Linked DNA regions of Homo sapiens: region 1 is linked to region 2. Evidence: fine-mapped expression QTL. A gene starts in region 2. The other region holds a variant in brackets. All regions are shown on one strand. Distances are between the middles of the regions. Region 1 has its middle 43 kb from the start of SIRPA. Region 2 holds the start of SIRPB2 (signal regulatory protein beta 2).

Region 1 (2,918 bases), 360 kb before region 2:
TACATCTCTTCTCTCCTCCACACTGAGGACTGACCCTAGATCCCACCAGAGGCACCATATGCACTTGTATCCCAGGGTTGCGTAGCCTGGTCATCAGATACCACTGGCTTTGGAGTTGGCTGGTCCTGCTGTGACGTTGCATAGGCCACTTCCCACTCTGAGCTCCACTTGACTTGCCTTCAAACAGTGGGTGATAATATTACCTTCATCACAAGCGGTGATGAGTGGTAGACGAGCTCCAGGCCATGAAAATGCTTTGCAAGTGGGACACTTAGTAGGTGCTCAATGAATGGGGTCATCACTATGCCCTCCTCTCACTGCTTCCTTCCCTCCTCAGTGAGACCCAGGATCCAGGTGGGAGCTCAGACCTGGAATTCTTGCTTAGCCAGAGAGTGTGTCCTATTTGCATCGATTTGCATAAGGCAGGGAATGGTGTGTACCTCTTTTTGCCTTTAGTTCCTGCAAGCTCACATCACCATTTAACAATAGGGTGTTGATCTTCCCCTTTCCCTACCATTCATTTTGCCTCTTGAAAGAATTTCAAGCTGTTAATCAAATATGCTGGAGTTGGAAGCTGTTTTTATTTTGGCCTGGTGCAGAATGGGGTCACCAGCTCTGGGCAGTCCTTGATTACCTGCTTTACTGGAGGAGAGACAACAGCAATGATCTCACAAATTGGAGGGTCCTGGAAGCTTTTAAAAGAAGAGCCAGTTTTATTTTTTATGCTTACAAAAGTAGAACATATAGGTAAAATGGAAAATATATAACAGCAGGAAAAATTCCCCAACAAATTACCCATAATAACGGTAACCAAGCATAATCACTATTAACATGTTACTGTCTTTATTTCATGGTTGATTTTTCCCTCATGCAATTTTTCTATAATTGAGATTATACATAATATATATAATGCTACAGCCGGCTTTTCCCCTGTGCTATAATATTATAAACTTGCAAACATCATTTTTTATGATCATGTAATATTCCACTGAACAGATAGTTTTAAAATCCTTCCTCTGTTATAGGACATTTAGATTTGTCCAGTTTTTTTGGTGGGGCTGGGGCAGGATGAGGAGGATATTGTAAATGTAACTGTCATGAAAATTATGTTCCTGGCTTTTTCTCTGCTTATTATGGGTTATTTTATCAGAAGAGAGCTCAGAAGTAAGATTACTAGGATATAAGAAGAGTGAGATGAGCTTAAGACTGTGGATAGATTTCGCTGCATCTCAATCAGTATCTGAATTCAAGAATGTACTTTTGAGTTGGCATTGTCATAGCTTCCTCTATAAACCTCAAAGCAACATGGGACACTCTGCCATGGGATTTGTTGGGCTCCCAGCCTGACGCTCCATGACTCCTGGTGCCCCTCTCACACAGGGAACACTCAACTCTTTGCTGGGGTGGATGCAAAGCTTGGACAATCTGCTTTCTTATAACATCTTTGGGCAGAACTTGTTTATGAAAGTATCTGGAATTCAAGGATACTCAAGCTGTGTCTTCAAGGCTGTGTCTCAAGGCTCTCACAAG[T/C]CCTATTTTACAAAAAATGACTTGGCTTTGGTCAGTTAGTAATGAATGTCTTTGGCTCAAACAAATATGTATTTCCAATCCAATTTTTCATAATAAGATGTCAAGAGATAGCATTCCAGACTATGCACAGCTGCCCAACAATGTTGTCTAGCCTTTGGGCTCTATTTTTCTGTTCTGCAGTCTCTGGGACTGTGGCATTTATTCTTGCAGTTTTTGCCTCTTGGTCCCACGATGGCTGCCACACCTCCAGGTATCAAATCCTCATTCCAGGTATGAAGAAGAAGGAAAGGTGAAGGAGCAAAGGAATATGCCATCTAAGTCTATTTTTTGCACCAGAAGACAAAAGCTTTTCTAGAAGCCCCACCCAGGAGATGCTTGCATCTCATTAGCTAGAACCAAGTCCTATGGCCATCTCTGAACCAATCGTTGGTGAAGAGAAATAAGGTTACCATGATCTTTGGACCAATCAAGATTCACCCCCAGAGTTCATGTTAGGGGCCTACCCTCTTTGAGATCAGTGGCTCACCAGTGCTGTGGACACAAATCAGTTTCCTTAGCAAAGAATGGGATGGGATAGCTGAGATTACTGGGATATGTGTTACTAGAAGGAAGACATTGTCATAGGCTTTGTGGAAGATGTTATGATTTCATCCCAGGGGTAAGCTCTCATTGGCTGATGCCCATTTATTTCTCTTGCCCAGTGATTGGCTCAGAGATAAGTACATGGTCTAAATACAGCAAGGACATCCAGTCTGTAATGAAAAGAGAAGGCTCCTCTTCTTTGTGCAGTGGGGTACTTGAATATGATGCCCAGAACTGCTGCAGCTATTTTGTTCTTATGGGGTAAACCAGGCTGAGGATGAAGCTTACGAGTGTACAGAAGGGGGGATAGAGACACAAGGGAAGCCTCAAGAGATGGAGCCGAGGCCTTGATTGAACTCTACCTGAGGCCCTTATGTTTTCTAGACTTTCAGTCTCAAAAGCTAATGTACTCTTCCGGTTGCATAAACCAGCTTGACTGAGGTTTCTGATGCAAGTTAAAGCATGATAACTGACAGAGATGCAAACAGGAACTTTGAGAAAAAGAGTTATGTGGTTAAATAAGTTTGAAGAACTGGATTAAGCAAAGTTTGACAAACTTTTTTTTTTTTGCTTCCCTTAGATTCTTCTATATGCAAATGTGTAATGTGAAGCTTCAAGAGGGGGAGATTTCATGTAGCATTTCCAGAATGTATTGTCCCCAGAATTGTTTTATCGTGGGACAGGACATCATTGGGAAATGCTGACAAGCCTAGCCCCTACCCTATAAACCTTGAATTTTTGACTTGAGATTAGACATATGGTTAATGTAGACGGAGTTAGGAGGCAAGTCTAAAGGGAAGGCAAAG
Region 2 (2,918 bases):
TTCAAAGAAGTTTCACTATATAGATCTCATTGACAGGAGAACAAGTAGAGGGAGTAATGGAATTGAGCAGGGGTATCAATGCAAGGCCTCAAAAGTCTAGAAAAGACCAGTCACAGACCCAGTGCAAAGTCCTTGGGGACCAGGCCAGACTAACCTCCTCATAGTAGACACCAGACCTCTGGGACCCAGGGGACATACTCAGATCCAAGGCCTGCCACCCTGTTGCTGGAGAATCTTCAGCTTCCTCTGCACCCAGAACCTTCTGAAGCATGAGGGAGGAAGTGAAATAATGAAAGGCTGAGTTGTTCTTGTACTTTTCCCTGAGTTAATTAAAAGACTGAGTTAACCTAAAAGACAATGGTGAAAGCCTATAGAGTGCTTACTCCACCCCACACATGCTACCACATTTTTATTCCTGTTTTACAGATGAGGAAACCGAGGCATAAAGTGGTCAAATGATTGTCCTAAGGTCACACAGCCAGACTGAGTAAAGCCAAGATTTGAACCCAGACAGTGTGGCTAAAGAGATTGCCTGGATTGCATGAATTGGCAAGATTAAGCTTTTCCTTCTTGATAGCCAGCACCAGGAGGCTCCTGAGGAAGTTCAGATCACTTACAGGAAACAAAGATGCCACAAACGCAAATGTTTGCACAATCTGAGTATGTTTCACTTGGACCCCAGGAAACAGAGGCTGAGAGAGTTACACATGATTATACTTTTAGGAATTAGGCCTGTACCCTCCCTGCAGTGCTAAAAGGAGGCCCCCATGGGGCTTGCTTTATAATAAATCCTTCTTCTTAAGCAATGTCACCTCCTCTACTTTCTGCACATCATGAATAATAATGGTTAATATGTTTAGCATTTACATTGTTCTGTGCCCTCACATTATTTCTCATAATCTTACCAAAACTGTTCTGAGGAGGGAACTGCCGTTGTTCCTACGCTGCAGATGAAGAAACAAAAGGCTCAGAAATGGGAAGTGACTTTGAAATCTTGCACAGCCAAGAAGAGGAAGATCCAATGTTTGCTCCAAATTCCACCCGATTCTGGAGTGCGTCCTATGACCTCAGTGCCCACCTCCCTCCCGGGCACCTAGGATGGAGCCTATGGCAAGGTTTTAGCACAGTGACTACAGGAATCACAGCCCAGACACAAAAGCAGGAAACCCTTTGACCGGGCTCCTTCCTATTGCACCAACAGCCTTGTGTTGCTGCAATGAAAACACTTCCCCAAGCAGCTGTGGCCAAGAGACGCAGAAACTGCCTTGTCCACGGGCCCCGCCTCAGACTCCAACACTCACAAGAGAGCAGAGGAGCCCCAAGTCTTGGGGACCACAGAAGATGCCATGTGCTCCACGATGTCGGCCCCCACCTGCCTGGCCCACTTGCCTCCCTGCTTCCTGCTGCTGGCACTGGTCCTTGTCCCCTCAGGTAAGTGGGGTCTAGGATAGAACAGGGTCCACCCCCGGCTGGTCAGTCCCTAGAGGGGCACTAAGTGCTCTGCCATGCCTGAAGAAGCTTGACCCCATGAAGATAGAGTAAAGAGGGGTCCACTGAAAATTTGCCTGACTCCGGCAGAGGGCACCCCCAGTGTCCCAAGAAGCAGCGTAGTGAAGTGATAAGCTCCCAGGCTCTGCGCTCACACCCACTGGCTTCCAGCTTGATTGCTCCTATGCCCACGTCAGATGCTGCAGCTCTTTTAGCCCCAGGAGCCTCTTCTACAAAACAGGGACGCTCATGGGACCTTTCTCTAGGGCTACTGTGAGTATTAAATAGAAAAGTGGTGAGGCTCAGCCCTGGGCCGGCTGCATAGTTTATGAGACCCACTGCAAAATGAAAACTGCGGTCTTTTGTTCAAAAAGTATTGAGCAACACAGCAGAGCAGTAAACCAAGCATGGGCTCCTTCTAAGCACAGGGCCCTGTGCGACTACATAGATGGCACAGCCATGAACCAGCCCTGGCTCAGCTTAAGACGCAGTAGGCTCAAACCTCACCACTAACCAGTTTAAGTAATTTCTTTCTGAGCCTCAGTTTTTCCAACTGTAAAATGGAGCTAAAAATAGGACCCACCTTGGGACTTTCTTAGGAGAATTTAACAAGATAATACCCATAAGTGCCTGGCATAACAAAGATTTGATAACTCTTGGCGATTATTATTATCATTCCCATGTTTCCTCTAACTCAGGGGCAGGCCAGGTTAGCTCCAGAGTCTTGAGACCCCTGAATATATAGCTCAGCCTCTGAGTCCAGAACTCTCTGATCTACCAGGCAGGGATACTTGGCTCTCAGTGGGCTCATTCCATCTCCTGCCCATCTGGGCCTCTGCTCCAGGCTCTACTGAGATCTAGATTCTGTCCATGACATCTTTGGTCCTCCGGGGTGGCCATCCCCAGGAGAGATCCTGGCAGAACCCAGGTGTGGGGTCGGACCTAGGTGCTCCCTTACTCATTGGCCGTATGACTCAAGACACCACTTCAATTCTCTAAGCTGATTTCCTCAATTCTAAGATGTGAATCATAATTGCTAGGTCTCATTCCACAGGTACTTTTGAGTGTCTGCTATGTTTTAGGCACTAGACTAGGAAATCAGAAATCTAAACTACTCAGAATAAAAAATATTCCCAATGATTGTTGCAATAGAATAGATGGAAAATAAGAGAAGTTGCTTAAACCAGTCAGTTGGAATGTTTGAGTCCAGCTGCATCTCAAGCTGAGTCAGGGCTGGTTCTTGGGTGTGCCCTCTATATAGTGGCACAGAGCCTCCTGCTTAGAAGGGCCCCATGCTTGGTTTAATGTTCTGCTGTGTTGCTCAATAGTTTTTGAACAAGGGACCTGCATTCCCGTTTTGCACTTGGCCTCACAAATTACGTAGCTGGCCCAGGATTGAGCCTCACCACTTCTCTATTTAATACTCACAG

The links. PIP is the estimated chance that this variant, and not a neighbour inherited with it, causes the effect. A credible set is the group of variants that fine-mapping cannot tell apart.
Region 1: its variant is the best candidate, but not a certain one, in a credible set for the expression of SIRPB2 in monocytes (Schmiedel 2018, PIP 0.51).

What each region holds. Positions count from the first base shown.
Region 1 is chr20:1,850,622-1,853,539 of GRCh38, reverse strand. No RefSeq gene overlaps it. Among named protein-coding and RNA genes, the nearest start is that of SIRPA, 43 kb to the left of the region's middle. The variant T/C (reference allele first, on the strand shown) is at 1,531.
Region 2 is chr20:1,489,788-1,492,705 of GRCh38, reverse strand. SIRPB2 (signal regulatory protein beta 2) reads left to right here and starts at 1,286. Exons shown (of 5, transcript NM_001122962.2): 1 at 1,286-1,431. The coding sequence starts at 1,347.